Linked DNA regions of Homo sapiens: region 2 is linked to region 1. Evidence: fine-mapped expression QTL. Tissue or cell type: whole blood. Region 1 holds a variant in brackets; the other region holds the start of a gene. All regions are shown on one strand. Distances are between the middles of the regions. Region 1 overlaps CHURC1-FNTB (CHURC1-FNTB readthrough). Region 2 holds the start of CHURC1 (churchill domain containing 1).

What was found.
Region 2: it holds the start of CHURC1, and the variant in region 1 is fine-mapped to the expression of CHURC1 in whole blood (INTERVAL, PIP above 0.99).

What each region holds. Positions count from the first base shown.
Region 1 is chr14:64,931,047-64,939,384 of GRCh38, forward strand. The region is part of intron 3 of CHURC1-FNTB (CHURC1-FNTB readthrough); the gene reads left to right. CHURC1 (churchill domain containing 1) reads left to right here. Exons shown (of 4, transcript NM_001386928.1): 4 at 1,092-4,322. The coding sequence ends at 1,184. GPX2 (glutathione peroxidase 2) reads right to left here. Exons shown (of 2, transcript NM_002083.4): 2 at 8,112-8,338. Among named protein-coding and RNA genes, the nearest start is that of GPX2, 7.5 kb to the right of the region's middle. The variant A/G (reference allele first, on the strand shown) is at 4,397.
Region 2 is chr14:64,909,876-64,918,213 of GRCh38, forward strand. CHURC1 (churchill domain containing 1) reads left to right here and starts at 4,580. Exons shown (of 4, transcript NM_001386928.1): 1 at 4,580-4,659. The coding sequence starts at 4,621. It overlaps CHURC1-FNTB (CHURC1-FNTB readthrough), which reads left to right and starts at 4,486. Exons shown (of 14, transcript NM_001202559.1): 1 at 4,486-4,659. The coding sequence starts at 4,540. RefSeq lists enhancers at 4,380-4,429, 4,580-4,849.

The DNA of each region.
Region 1 (8,338 bases):
AGAAACACAAACTGCCTTGACTGATCAATTTCCAGACAGCTAGCAAACTTAGCATCAGGTGTGGAAATTCTAGAAGACTTAACATAGATGTTTGTTTTTGTACAGAGAAAAAGGCTTTTAAATGAAAGGTTTCAAAGAAATATGTCTCTGTAGTTTATGACTGTTAAATATTCTAGAAAGGGAAAGCTATAAGAATAGGACTTTGGGCTGGATGCAGTGGCTCACACCTGTAATCCTGTCACTTTGGGAGGCCAAGGTGGGAGGATCACTTGAGCATAGGAGTTTGAGGCCACCCTGGGCAACATAGTGAGACCCCATCTCTACAAAAAATTTAAAAATTAGCCAGGCGTGATGCCGAGTGCTTGTAATCTCAATTACTTGGGGGTCTGAGGTGGGATGATCACTTGAGCACAGGAGGTCAAGGCTGCAGTGAACCATCATTGCACCACTGCACTCCAATCTGGGCAACACAGTGATACCGTGTCTAAAAAAAAAAAGAAAAAGGACCTTGCCCTAAGGGTTTTTGCCTAAAACAAAATCTCCTCTATTACCAATCTGGGCATTTATTAAGCCTGGGAAACAAACTTCTTAAATGGATCAAATTCCCAGACAACTAGCCATCTGAAAATGAGGCAGGACATACTAGTGAATTTAACATAATTGTTTATTTTCCTAGGGTAGATAAAAATAGCTTTTTCAGTTTGGGAATTTTCTCCTTTCAAAAAATTGTTTCTGTTGTGTATTAGTGTTAAATATGCTAGAAAGGAACAGCTGTAAGAATAGGAATTTGTCCATAGGGACCCACACTCAAATTGCTTCATTACTTTAAATAGCACTAAGCTAAATATATGTGCTTTCTGAGAAATAGCCATGTATTTCCAAGATGACATTTATGTATCAATTTATATAAACAACAGGCTCTGGAATATACAGAATAAGCCTAAGACATTGCTGATACATGTTGAAGAAATTGATCCAATGTACAGAAAGAATATTCATGACAATTTGTAGAGAACATCTTAACTAGAGTAAGTTATAAAGCATCTTTTTCCCTGTTCCTCTAGGTAATTATGCACTTTATCTTGTTCTAGGAGTATACCATGCTGTGTCTGTTATGCGGCAAAGCCGAAGATACTATCAGTATTCTCCCTGATGACCCCCGACAAATGACTCTCTTATTCTAAGGATCCTTCTACAGATCTGTTATAACTATATTGTGTTGGTTTACAATACAGCAAGCCTGATGGTTTGTCTTATTTCATTCATACTGAAAATTCTTTGCATATTTTTTTTCTGCTTAGACTTACTTATTCTTTGAGGAAAAAAGGTAATGTAGGAGCTCATTGTTCTCTAGAGCTGAGCTCTTCTGCTAAAGTTCAAAGTTCACATCAGTGTAGCCAGAGTGAAGCATCTTTGTTAGCAGTTATGTGGTCAGAAAACAACTAGAATGGGAGCACACCTGGTGCCCAGATTTTGGTTTCCAATAAAAGGAACCAGGACTCCTTAGAAAATGAACTGATTCTAGAACTGGGATATGAACTGTACAAGATGAGCCTAGAGTATCTTGTGCCACAGAAAAATGAAGTACTGAAATTAAAAAAAAAAAATCATAGTGATTGGGAGTATGTCAGCATGATCGAACTGAAGGATCTCTGAAAGGCCACAGCTGGAGCAATTTGAGTAACAAAATAAAGTAGTATTGGGTTATAACCCAAACTATATAATAAATATTTACAAGCCCAAACTAATATAAATGATTGAATGGGAACAAATCTCTTGTGCAGAAGAATTTCAAATAATTTATGTAGATACTCCCCACTTAGTGGGCTCTGCATAGTGACTTCCTTGCAGAGTATAATATGGAAAGGGGGGAAAAGAGTAACTTTACAGTGGAGAAATCTGACAGACACCAGCTCAGCCAGGTGATTGAGGTTAACATCATCCATGATAAGCCCTTTTGATAGCATGTATCCTTGATAGCATCACATCATACAGAATGTGATAAGAATGGCACTTTACCTCTGTGGTCCTCCTCCCCAGAACTCAGAACCCAAGTCTGATCAGGAGAAAAACATCACACAAATTCCAATTGAGAAGCATTCTTTAAAATACCTAACCAGTACTTCTCAAAACTATCAAGGCCATAAAAAACAAGGAAAATCTGAGACATGGTCACAGCCAAGAGGAGCCTGAGAAGACATGACTGCTAGATGTAATGTGGTATCCTACATGGAATTATATACCACGAAAAGAAAAAAAGGTCATTTGGTAGAAACTAGGGAAATCTGAATACAGTGTGGACTTCAGTTAATATAAATGAGAAAATGGTTTCATTGGCTTTAAAGGGATTTTAGAATATCTTACTTTGCATAGTTTCATGAGCACTGGCCAGGAGGTTATAAACTGGCATTTAGGCCTCTCTGCCATTTAGTAGCAGTATAGTCATTAAGCAAAGCATTACTCTGGACTTTATTGTCCTGTTTCTATCAAATTGGACTAACAAAAATTGATATAATACATTCATCACAGTATTGTTAGGAGATTTAAATGAATTAGTGAATGTAAGATACTTTAGAAAGCATGTAAAGTACTAGAAACAATGAGGTGGCTTCAATTAGTGCTCATTCTGAGACCTAAATTTAAAGGGTCAGGCATTAGAAACAAAAGTGTTTCTTCATATCTAGGAGATTTGGAAATTCTGAACTAAGGTCTTATAAGAACAAGAAATGAGCAAAGTGTTCATTGTAGATACTAGGGAAAAGCTTTGTTGAATAACAGTAATGATGATAATATCTGAGCTTTATTAAGTACTTACTACATGCTAAGAGCTTTTTAAGCACTTATTTAATCCTCATTAACAAATTCATAAGGTAGGTGCTATTGATAGTTTAGCCATAACCAGATATGGCTTGTTATTTGTAAGTTATCATGAAAAGGTTTATATTCACTATTCTTTATTTCAGTGTAGCACTTTTAGAGCCAAAAAAACTCAGGCACAAAGAAGTTAAATAACTTGCCGGGTGCGGTGGCTCACCCCTGTAATCCCAGCACTTTGGGAGGCCAAAGCAGGCGGATCACCTGAGGTCAGGAGTTTGAGACCAGCCGGGCCAACATGGTGCAACCTCGTCTTTACTAAAAATACAAAAACAAAAATTAGCCAGGGGTGGTGGTATGCACCTGCAGTCCCAGCAACATGGGAGGCTGAACAGGAGAATCGCTTGAACCCGCGACAGGGAGGTTGTGATGAGCCAAGGTCATGCCACTGCACTCCAGCCTGGGAGACAGAGCAAGACTCCATCTCAAAAACAAAAACAAAACAAAACAACAACAAAAAAAGAAGTTAAATAACTTGTTTAAGATCACACAGCTAGTGCAGTTACCCCCTCTCAGTAATTATGTTTGGCAAATATGAAATACAAGGATCTGGCAAGGTTAGGAAGAGGTTAAGAATATCAGTGACAGTACTCTGAGGCATCTGGGCATGTCAGATGAAGATTTATTATTCAGAAAAGTTAAGTCAGCTGTTGCAGGGATCAGTTGTTTTATTCCTGGAAAATGTTTTTCATTTTGCTGCAAATCTATATCTGACCTGCTGAGGAAATCGTTTGGTGAAATGAATCCAGAAAGCAGAGAAAATGCTTCATTACTTTAAATAGCAGCATTAAGCCCATTATAGCCTCTGAATTGTCCCTTCCTTGAGTTTGCTAATGCTTCCAACTTAGTCATTTGAAGCCCAAGAGTCTAATTTTATATGCCCTGCCAATGTCCTCATCTATTGCAGAATGTATAATTATCTATTTGTTTTGGACTATATGTTACAAAAATTTAAAACATAAGATCCTCTCTCTATATTTCATTATTGGTGAACCCACATTGTGCTGTGTTTTGTGATATTTTATCATTTTCTAGATTCTTATGTGGATCTAATAACGACCACTTGAACCCAGTTTCACAGAATCCTTATTTTTCTGTTCAAATTAGGAATTAGGGACATGGATGAAATTGGAAATCTTCATTCTCAGTAAACTATCGCAAGGACAAAAAACCAAACACCACATGTTCTCACTCATAGATAGGAATTGAACAATGAGAACACATGGAGACAGGAAGGGGAACATCACACTCTAGGGACTGTTGTGGGGTGAGGGGAGGGGTGAGGGATAGCATTAGGAGATATACCTGATGCTAAATGACGAGTTAGTGGGTGCAGCACACCAGCATGGCACATGTATACGTATGTAACTAACCTGCACATCGTGCACATGTACCCTAAAACTTAAAGTATAATAATAATAAAATAAAAAAAAAGGAATTAGGCAAAACATGGCTCTTCTTTTTACTTTCCTTCCTGAGATATAAGAAGGAAGAGAAATCACCTGTGGGGATAATTGGAAAC[A/G]TGGGGATAATTGGAAACGTGGGCTTATCTTGGCACCTCCTTTTTCTCTAATCATTCTGTGATGTACAGGTCTGGCTAGTTAGGCTCCTGAAGTTAAAAGCTCAGCCACTATTTGTTGTTTTGTTTGATCTAGCTCTTTCTCACATGGTTTTAGGTTCTCCCAGTACTAATTTAATTGACATCAGATAGCTTGGGCACAACCAGATATGGCTTGTTATTTGTAAGTTACCATGAAGAGGTTTATGTTCACTGTCCTTTATTTCAGTGTATCAAAAGTCCTTTCGGTTTCATTCTTTCATGTTGTGAGCAGGGCTAGTTATTTGAGGCGCTCAATTTAAAAATGTATGTTTTTTTTTTACTGTAGTACAAGACTGTTGTAAGATACAGTATAGTTGGATAGAAAAGGAATTAAAAGATCTGGGTCTAGAATTAGCTTTGTCACCTGCTAATGATGGGACACTGAGCAAGTCACTTATCCTGTCTGTACCTCAGTGTCTTCAGTGGAAAACTAGAAACCATCATGCCTCCACAGAATTTTTAAATCTAATGATTTTTAAATCTAATGCTGTGTGCAGGCAGCTGTCAGTGGTCTTTATGAAGAAAAATCTGAGCTAGAAGAAAGCACTGTTGTGTTATGGTTAAGAGTAGAGGCTTTGGAGTCAGACTGACCTGGCTTTAACTTTCAGCTTTGCTGCTTCCTAAGCTGTGTGTCCTTGGCAAGTGTCTTGCCCAATTACCTTTTCTTTTAATAGAAATAACAATTTTTCATGGGATCTCTATGAGGGTTAAATAACCTAGTGTATATAAAGTACCTAGCCCAGTCTGTGCCCATAGTAAATATTAAATGAATGGTAGTTTGGATGATGGTTGTGATGGTGATTATAATAAAGTTCTAGAGTTTGACTCAGTGTTTTTGAGACAAGGTCTCATCCAGGCTGGAGTGCAGTGGTGCAATCATAGCTCACTGCAGCCTCGAACTCCCAGGCGCAAGCAATTCTCCCACCCTAGCTGCCTGAGTAGCTGAAACCATTACAGGTGTACATCACCATGCTCAGCCGATTTTTTTTTTTTTTTTTTAATTTTTTGTAGAGACGAGGTCTCACTGTGTAGCCCAGGCTACATAGTGAGCTCCTGGGCTCAGGCCATCTTCCCGCCTCAACTTCCCAAAGTGTTGGGATTATAGGCTTGAGCCACCATACTGGGCCTCAGTGTCTCATAAACTAAGGAGAGATAGCTATGGGAACATAGTCATGAAGATAATTATCGATTTCAGTGTCTTTACCCTGGCCTCCTAAAATCACTTGTTCCAAGCTCTGGTTTTTTTGTTTTGTTTTTTGTTTTTGTAAGAGCCCTCAGGTTAGTGATTCTCTCTGTCCCTCCTCTGAGTTGAATAGCATTATCTCAGCACTTCTGGGAGAGTTGTTAAGGAGACTTCCCCCTCCTTCTGGGTGCCCCTAGGGAAATCTGATTAAAAGATTTTTGTTTATCTAGAAAAGTGGGTGATATTTTAAAGCTTTGCCTTGTCTGTTTATGATCACAAGCTAATACTTCTGAGGATGATAAGGGGGACAAACAAGATGAAGAATAAAGGAAAGGAAACACTTTCTAATTTCTCTTCATTTTAACAACAGCACAACTAAATATTTGGTAAACCTAAACATCCTTTTAAAATAGAATCTTCCAGTCTTGCCTTCCCTGTTTCCTCCTGAGCTGAATAGATCAGGTTCTGTCTGAAGCAAATAGTGTTTCCCCTCCCAAGTGAAGAGCCTTCATTCTAGCTTTATGGCCTTCTCTTGACTTTCTGCAGAATAACTTATACTGTAATTCCCATTCCTTTGGGAATCCCTAAATAATTCTTTGAACTTGGGCCTCAAGGGAAAGACTGAACACATTGTACTGGTGTCTCAGGCTCTAAGTTGCCTGTGGCATGTTTCCAACACCCGAGATAGCTGGCTCTGTTACTGGATGTAACAACAGGCTATGGTACTGTCAAGGTGATGACTAGCATCCAAGAAGAATTCTCTATTTTGTCAGGAAAGCAATTTGTCTGCAGTTACTGCTCTAAAATCAGTACATGGTCCTGCCCCATAATAATTCATACCCCAGCTGTTGACTTTAAGAGCAGGAATCTGAAAGGCTTGAGGTTTCAAGAGTGAAGGTAAGGGTAGCCTTAAGTTAGCAGAAGGCCCTGCAGAAAGGTGTCAGGGGATTCCCACTGTAATACTCAGGTTACCCTTTTGAAATAAAGCACTGTTGTTGACAGGTTTAGTTGAAGGTCAGAAAGTGGGGATCCTAAACATCTATTCCACATTCACTCTCATATGATGCAAGTGCTTAGAAAATGGTTAGGGTAAGCAGAACAATTAAAGGAAAAACATTTTCCCTTCAGCATTGGGCTTCTCAAGCAGTGTGTCCAGTTTGGAAAACTGTCCCTTCAGGGTTTCAGTGAATAGAAGTGAAAATATTCCATCTAGTGGTCAAAGAAGGGAAGATGAAATGAGAAGTTTCCAGGATGAGGTCTGTGGGGCAAGGTGACAGGCAGTGGCCTCTCAGCAGGTATCTTTTCCAGAACATGATAGAACCTGACCTTGGCGGTGGTGATATGTTTTGATTATGTCTGCACTGGATGAGGAATTGGGGACACCATCCTTGCAAGGCCTCTGAGCAAAACTGTCCTCACAGTGAGGAATAATGATGTTGCAAATGGCAGATTATAAACAGCCTGACTCTGAAGGGAGGCTCTCTCCCATCCCCAACCCCTTCCTTCTTACAGAGGAAGAAATGAGTCCAGTCATTCCTGCCTCTATTTGTCTGGAGCCTGAATTTGTGAATATGTGATTTTGAGAAGAATGAGGGTGTAATGTGAACTTTATTTATTTATTTTGAGACGGAGTCTCACTCTGTCGCCCAGGCTGGAGTGTAGTGGCGCCGCCATCTTGGCTCACTGCAGCCTCCACCTCCCGGGTTCAAATGAGTCTCTCACCTCAGCCTCCTGAGTAGCTGGGATTACAGGCGTGCGCCACCACACCTGGCTAATTTTTTGTATTTTTAGTACAGACAGAGTTTCATCATGTTGGCCAGGCTGGTCTCGAACTCCTGACCTCAAGTGATCCGCCTGTCTCGGCCTCTCAAAGTGCTGGGATTATAGGTGTGAGCCACCACACCCGGGCCATGAACTTTAAAAAGGAGGGAGAATCAGTCTAGCAAAGGATCAAACACCCGAGATGTTTGATGATCAGGAAAAAGATAAAGTGCTGTTTGTGTTCTCAGTAACTACACCCTCTATGCCCTTGCTATTGGTAAACATTAACTAAGCTGACTGCCCAGGAATTTCCCAAGGCACAAGTCAGATCTAGTTGGCCCAGTACCCACAGTGCTATTGATGCTTCCTGACTGTAATCCTCCTAACAGCCTCCCAATATCCCCAACCAAAGGGCTCATTGTCTTTTCCTCCTCTACCTCCCATTATCACTTTCTCTTTTTCCCCAGTTCTGAAGAAGAGCTGTAAAGGAATAATATAATTCACATTTCCCGTAACTGCACCTGCCACTGCAGACCTTGGCCAGCGCTTGCTTTCCTGTCAGTAATTAGGGCATCCCTTGATCCGTCAGATCCTCCCCTCCCAAAGCTTTGTGTGCTAGCAGCTCCTCTATCCCACCTGCAGTTTGTAGCTTCCCTCCGCCCTCTGTCAAAGAACACACACACAGGCTGGCCGTTTCCACACCTGCCCTTTATTGGTCTCTTCTAGCAGAGTGGCTCCAGGCCCTTCACGCCTCTCAGACACCACCCATGAGGGTTTAGGAAGGTGCCATCATTCTGTGAAGGCCCAGAGCTTACCCAAGTCTTGGAGCCCAAGTTGAATCACCAACCAGAGGGTTGGGAGAGGAAAAGGAAACAGGCAGAGGGGAAAGGCAAGGCTCTGCAGTGAAGGGGACTGATATC
Region 2 (8,338 bases), 21 kb before region 1:
TTGTGTCATCACTTCAGACTCTTGGCTTAAGACAGCATAAGACAAAAGAAAAAATAGAAAGAAGGTGTTAAAAGGAGAGTCAAACTGCACTCTTTAGGGAAAATTTTCATCTTACCACAGGGATGTAGTTTAGCACATGTAACTGAGCCAGCAATTAGGGCCATTTTAACATTTAGATTTTCTTTAATCAATTCCTTTTACAAGAGGTGATCTCATACGTAAACTGCAACATGGTTTGTTTGATATATCTCATGGACATCACATATTTATTAGAGACCCATAGGGGCAGGGTATTTCCCCAGAGAAAATTCTATTAGAAGATAAAATTGATTTTGCAAATTTTATTTTATATAGTTACCTATAAGAGAAAATATTTTTCTGTTTATTGTTTTTCTTATGTTACATCACTACTTGTTCATTTCATTCAGGTGCTAATCTTCTGCTTTGTAGCCTCTATTTTCCTTTCTCCCATCTGTCAACCTCAGATACTTTTATATTCCCATTACCACAGTCACACTTTAATTTCTGGTCCTGGCTACCTCTTCCCCCAAGTCTCATTTCCTGCCTCTCTTCTCTGAATGTGGCTAGATTTAAATGGAGGACTTCATTGGATAGATAGCCCTGAGCTCTTGAGCTTTTGTGACCATAAATATGACAACTTTTTTTTTTTTTTTTTGAGATGGAGTCTAGCTCTGTCGCCCAGGCTGGAGTGCAATGGCACGATCTCGGCTCACTGCAACCTCTGACTCCCAGGTTCAAGCGTTGCTCCTGCCTCAGCCTCCTGAGTAGCTGGGATTACAGGCATGCGCCACCATGCCCAGCTAATTTTTGTATTTTTAGTGGAGACAGGGTTTCACCATGTTAGCCAGGAGGGTCTCGATCTCCTGACATCATGATCCACCCGCCTCAGCCTCCCAAAGTGCTGGGATTACAAGCATGAGCCACCATACCCGGCCGACCTTTTTTTTTTTTTATCTTGCTCATTTTAATAACAAGTTATGATATAACTCTGGGAAGGTAAAAAAATTTCATAAATATGTAGATTGTCTTTCATGCCTTAGAATATGAAATCAATTCATGCTAATGGGTGTACTCTTTAAGATCTATGACTTTAGTGTAATTTTTAATTAATTTATTTTTGTTGTGTATATTCTCAGTGATGAGGCAGAAAGCTATACATCTCCCCCTTGTGGTTCCTGCTAACGTCTGCCTTTGGCATGTCCATTTTTTTCCCAGTTCCAGTAAGTCCCAATAAAATGCAGCTAAAATAATCTTTTTTATTTATTTATTTTTTAGGGACAGAGTCTCACTCTGTTGCCCAGGCGGGGGTGCAAGCAGCATGATCATAGCTCATTACAGCCTCAAACTCCTAGGCTCAAGAGATCTTCCCATCTCAGCCTCCTGAGTAGCTAGGACTGCAGGTGCACACCACCACACTAGGCTAATTTAAAAATTTTTTGAGGTCATCACTATGTTGCCCAAGCTGGTCTTGAACTCCTGGCTTCAAGCTACCCTCCTGCCTTGGCGTCCCAAAAGTGCTGGGATTACAGGTGTGAGCCACCACACCCAGCCTAAAATAATTTTAAACCACAACTCTGGCAACACTCTCCTGCTCAAACCTTCAGTTGCTCCCTACCACATGCAGAATAAAATCCAAACTCCTTGGCATGGTTCACCTGAAATTTCTATACAAAACAAAACAAAACTCTGCTTTTTGAAATTCTAAACATGCTTTAAGGCCCAAATTCCTCTTTCCTAATCCTCCCCCTGGGTGTAGTCTCATCATTTTGTGTTCTTATACCCCAATCTGCCAGTAATTATTAGTATTTGTGCTCATTTTATCTCTCAGACTAAATTGTAGCTGGGGAGTAGCAAAGGATTAAAAGTCAGTATTAGGCTTTAAAAACAGAGAAACCATTTAAAAATGGATGAAGAGAAAGAATTGGGCCAGGTGCAGTGGCTCACACCTGTAATCCCAGCACTTTGGAAGGCCGAGGCAGGTGGATCACTTGAGACCAGGAGTTCGAGACCACCCTGGCCAACATGGTGAAACCTCATCTCTACTAAAACTACAAAAAATTAGCCGGTTGTGGTGGTGTGCCCCGGTAGTCCCAGCTACTTGGGAGGCTGAGGCATGAGAATCGCTTGAACCTGGGAGGCAGAGGTTGCAGTGAGCCGAGACTATGCCAGTGCACTCCAGCCGAGGTGACACAGTGAGACTGCCTTAAAAGAGAGAGAGAGAAGAAAAAAAGACTAGCCCTGTCCAATAGGAATATGAGAGCTACATGTGTAATTTTTAATTTTCTAGTAGTCACATTAAAAAAGCAGGTGAAATTAATTTAATAATACATTTTTATTTAACCCAGTACGTCAAAAATTATTTCAACGTAATCATATAAATTTATTAATGAGATTCTTATATATTTTAATACTAAATCTTCCAAATCTGGTGTGCAGAATGTACTCACAGCACAATCTCAGTTCAACTTGCCATATTTAAAGTGCTTTATAGCCATAAGTGGCTAGTGCTACTGTATTAGAAAGAAATTGAGATAAGGATAGCAACAGAGTCCTAGCCCTGGCTGACTACTGAGTAGCTTTGTTACCATAGACAAGACCTTTAACCACTCACTTCTGTGGTTTCCTTATCTGAAAAGAGGAGACATATTTTTCTTACCAACCACATAGGATTGTAATAGCATAAAATTAGAAACTGAAATGAGGACACTTTTGAAAGGTTGAAAATGTCATACAAATGGGAGGTATTATAATTATTCTAAGAATAAGGTAAACTCTGATGGCTCTAGTTCTTGCAGTGTTTCTTAGCACACCTATGATTTTTAATAACAGTTGCAGATACTTACTAGAAGTTGAAATACTAAAGGTTACAACTTCAGTGCTTCCGTGGAAAAATAATTCCCATATTAGCAAACCCATTTAAACTGGTGTGCTTTGAAATGGTTATTAATCTCTTCTTTAAGGAATCTGGATCCCAGAGTCTCCCAGGCTCCCCAATCTTTCTTCCCTGACATGACAGCAATAAAGCAGGGCTGAGGGAGGATGTTGATGTTCCCATTGGGGTAGAGGAGTGTGATAAAGACGCATTGTTCAGAAACAGAGACAAACTTCGGAGATTCGTCTGCAAGTTAATTAGGTCGTTGCGAATAAATAAGATGCTTTCAATACAGAGAGAAAGGATGAGGCGGGGCAACAAGCACAAGCATTTTGAGACCCACAGGATTGGGAAATGATGCAGGAACAACTGACCTGGCCATTTTTCTTTCTTTCTTTCTTTTCTTGGAAGCACATATGTTTATTGGTTTTTTAATCTGTGAACCAATAGGTCATTTATAAATGGATGTGCAAATCTGAAATCAAAATATCTGCAGTCAATTCAATTAGATAATTTTTGAAATCTATTTATTTTTAATATACTTTAAGTTCTAGGGTACATGTGCACAACGTGCAGATTTGTTACCTATGTATAGATATGCCATGTTGGTGTGCTGCACACATTAACTCGTCATTTACATTAAGTATATCTCCTAATGCTATCCCTCCCCCCTCCCCCCACCCCACGACAGGCCCCGGTGTGTGGTGTTCCCCACCCTGTGTCCAAGTGTTCTCATTGTTCAATTCCCACCTATGAGTGAGAACATGCGGTGTTTGGTTTTCTGTCCTTGCGATAGTTTGCTCAGAATGACGGTTTCCAGCTTCATCCGTGTCCCTACAAAGGACATGAACTCATCCTTTTTTATGGCTGCATAGTATTCCATGGTATATATGTGCCACATTTTCTTAATCCAGTCTATCATTGATGGACATTTGCATTGGTTCCAAGTCTTTGGTATTCTGAATAGTGCCACAATAAACATACATGTGCATGTGTCTTTATAGCAGCATGATTTATAATCCTTTGGGTATATACCCAGTAATGGGATGGCTGATGACCTGGCCATTTTTCTATTTACATAGTGCTTGCCCGCCACTGAGGTGCTTCTGTGACACCTGAGAGAGATAGAAATACGTTCCTCGTTGCTATGTCCTCCAGAGGACTCTGGAATGACCAATTATTACTAATATTTTAAGTGTTTTTTTAGGAGATTTTCTGCAGCACTCTGAGTGTCTCTTCCCAAACACTTCGGTTACTGTTTATTCACCTGCTGAGATCTGGTCTCTTATTCACTCTCATTGCCTTAAGAAATGGTACAGAAATGTATTCATTAACATTTCAGATTTGTATATGCGGTAGCGAGAAATAATTCCCTTTCTTGTGTGTCGTGATTTGCCTTTCTTGTCAGCCTAAGCTCAGGAAGGTGTCTGTGAGAACTTCGCTCAGCCCAAGATCCCTTTCCCTTCCCGTCACATCTGTTAGCGCACAAGATTTCTTCGTCTGTCTCCAAAGGTTTCTGAAGCCCCACCCTTTGCCCACGCACGGTGCCAAGGAGACTGTGCCCTGCCTTGACAACAGTTGCTAAGGGGCGGAGACTTCGGCTCGGTTCCCGAGACGGAATACCCAGGAGTCGAGTACTTGGGCGCATGCGGCAACCGTATCTCAGTTCTCGCGAGGTTTCGTCTTCCCGGAAGCGTTGGAGGACATTCCCTGTTGACTGCGTCGCGATGTGTGGCGACTGTGTGGAGAAGGAATATCCCAACCGGGTGAGCGACTGGGCGCTCCCTTGGCCCGCGGGCGGCCCCCGAGGTGTCTCATATCCAAGGCTGGCCTTCCCAGAGAGGCCGTACGTGGGGCGGACTCGGCCGCACTGCCGGTCCCGGTGACCCAGTAGCGGTATTTAGGCACACCAGGGATGGCCTGTGGCGGTCTGCACCTCTGGTACCCGCCCTGGCGGCTGACCTCAGTTGTAGTGGCCGTTCTCTTGAGCTCCAAGGAGCAACAGAGGAACCCCACCACCACCACAACCCCCGTCGACAACCGAGGGACTCCCCCACCCCCACTTCCGGTCTCATCCTCAAGCTCGATTTGATGAAGTACAATTTTCTTACCGAATTCTAGCGCTGGAGGGGACCTCTGTGGTCATCTGTTCTAACACTTTTGCAGATGAAGAAACCGATGCCCAGAGAGGGGAAATCACTTGCCCAAGTTCACATTCTAGTTGCATGGATGAGAGCCAGGACTAGAATTTAGGTTTCCTGCCTGTTACCGCCTTCTGAATCTCAGTTACTTTCAGGTTCAGGAGTTTGCAAAGCTTGTCTATTCTCATTCATTCAAGGCATCCTTGTTGAACATTTATATATGTGTAGTTAGATTACTTTGCTAGGCCAGAAAGGGATTATTTCTCCTCTCTTTGAGACAGGGTGCTGCTGTTGCCCAGGCTGGTCTCAAATTCCTGGGATCAAGTGATCCTCCCGCCTTGGCCTCCGAAAGTGCTGGGATTACTGGCATGAGCCACCACGTCCAGCTGGATTATTTGTTTCAGAGAAGAAATTAAAAGGCACCTTTGGTGCTGCCTAACAGCTTACAGTTTTGGGGAGTATGTGACTAACAAAAAATGAGTAGCTCAGTTCAGAAATGCTATTCAAGTTTAGGGAAAGGGGAGGGCAATAGGGGATAGTGCTGTTCTCCCCTGAGAAAAGGTGGACATCATCTAAGACTTGAAGGACAGTTGTAATTAGGGTAGAAAAGAAGGTGAGGAGCTGGAGGATGGGGGAAAATTACAGAAATGGAATTTGTGCATTGGTTGGGAAGGAGGGAGAAAGTCTCTGTAGTTCCTTATGTCTTAGTATCTTATGGGTAATACTTAGGCTTTTGAGTAGCATGTATAACAGTATGAATTCTCCTGTAGTACAACTACTTTGAAAAAGCGGGTGAGCCTTATAAAATACAGACATGACCCAGTGATTCCCATTCTAGAAAAATGCATGTGTATATGCTTCTGAAGACTTTTATAAATAAGTGTTCATAACAGCATTATTTTTGTAGTAGATTGGAAAAGTAACTGATACATTCATTAGAATGGAACACCATTAATGAATGAGGAATGGAAGTGAATGAATTAGAGCAGTAGTTCTCTACCAGGAGTGATTTTTGGCTCTTAGGAGACATTTGGCAATATCCAGAGACATTTTTTGGGTGTCAAAAGGGGAAGTACTACTGACTGCTAATGGGTGATGCAAGGGATGCCGCTAAACATCCAGCAATACATGGGACAGCCACCACAACAAAGTATCACTCCCAATGTCAATAGTGTGGAGGTAGAGAAACCCTGAATTATAGCCGTGAAACCAAACTAGAATTACACAGCAGCCTGAAAAGTCTTACAAATAGTGTTGATGAAAGAACACATAAAGTATAATTCAAAAAGAGGCAAACCAAAATATATTATTCAAGGATGTACCTGGGTGGTAAAACTGTAAGGAACGTATACAATTACTGTTAAGTCGAGATAGTGGTTACTCCTAAGGGATTAGGGTGTGATCAAGAAGGGTCACATGAGAAAAAGTCTTCCCGGGTGCAAGCAGTGTTTTATTTCTTGATTTGGGTGGTGGTTCTACAGATGTACACTTTATAATCATTTCTTGTTCGCTACATTTATGTTTCATGTACTTTACTATGTACTATTTCATTTTTTTAAAGTTTAAAAAGATTTTTATGAAACCAGTAATAAACATGAGCTATTATGAGACCATGAGGGAGGAGTTTGCAGTAGAGAATATTAAAGAGATTAGGTTGGATTCTTTTTTGTTGTTGTTTTTGTTTTTGAGATGGAGTCTTGCTCTGTCGCCCAGGTTGGAGTGCAGTGGCATGATCTCGGCTCACTGCAAGCTCCGCCTCACTGGTTCATGCCATTCTCCTGCCTCAGCCTCCCGAGTAGCTCGGACTGCAGGTGCCCACCACCATGCCCAGCTAATTTTTTTGTATTTTTAGTAGAGACAGGGTTTCGCCTTGTTAGCCAGGATGGTCTCGATCTCCTGACCTCGTGATCCACCTGCCTCGGCCTCCCAAAGTGCTAGGATTACAGGCGTGAGCCACCGCGCCGGGCCTTAGGTTGGATTCTTAAGAGTGGAGTTATTGTAAAACTTAAAAGTCATATTGAGAAGTTTAGAGTTTACATTTTAGGCATTGGGCCACCATCAAAATTTTAATAGAGAAATGATTCTGAAATCTGTTATTTAGGAAAATGAATCTTATGGCTGAATGTTGAAATGGTGGGGTAGAGGGTGTGTAAAGACAGAACTCCACAGGGCATTTGAGGAGCCATGGCAACAGTGGTGTAGGCATGAGATAATGAAGACCTTATTTCAAAGAAAGAATTAGGTTGGGCACGGTTCTCACACCTGTAATCCCAGCACTTTGGGAGGCCAAGGCAGGTGGATCACTTGAGCCCAGGAGTTTGAGACCAGTCTCAAACATGGCAAAACCCTGTCTCTACAAAAAATACAAATAGTCTGGGCACGGTGGCTCACGCCTATAATCCCAGCACTTTGGGAGGCCAAGGCTGGCAGATCACCTGAGGTCAGGAGTTCGAGACCAGCTTGGCCAACATGGCGAAACCCCGTCTCTACTAAAAATACAAAAATTAGCTGGGTGTGGTGGGAGGCGCCTGTAATCCCAGCTACTTGGGAGGCTGAGGCGGTAGAATCGCTTGAACCTGGGAGGCAGAGGTTGCAGTGAGCCGAGATCACACCACTGCTCTCCACCATGGGTGACAAGAGCAAAACTCCGTCTCAAAACAAATAAACAAACAAAAAAAAACCACCACAAATATTAGCCAAGCGTGGTGGCATGCACCTGTAGTCCTAGCTACTTGGAGGTTGAGGTGGGAGGTTGCAGTGAGCCATGATCGTGCCATTGCACTCCAGCCTGGGCAACAGAGCGAGACCCTGTTGAAAAAAAAAAGAATTAACAAGATTCAACCTGTTTAATGTAGAAGTGAATAAGGGGAGACCTATACATGATCACATGATCTCAGGATTTTCAATCTAGGCAACTGGGATGTTGGAAGTATCATTACAGAAATTGGAGGCATATGGGAAGAAAAAACAAAATTGGGGACAAATGGTCAAATTGTTATTAATATCATGCTTCACCTGAGGTTGAGAATATCCGAAGGGTCAAGTGAAGATATAAGACTGCAGTTTGGGTACAACTATGTAGATAGATGAGTCAGTCAAATACAAGTGTCAAAATAGGATTTGTTCTCTGAGGAAAAAAATGTAGAGAATCAAGGACTGAGCTCCAAAGACTAAATTAACTTCAGAAATGAAAATAAAGTATAAGGAAGAATAGTAGAAAAAGGGATCGAGGTGATTGGAAAACCAGGAGAGTGCCTTTCAAAGGCACTTTTCTCTGATTTTATTCTGTTCTAAAATAATTAAA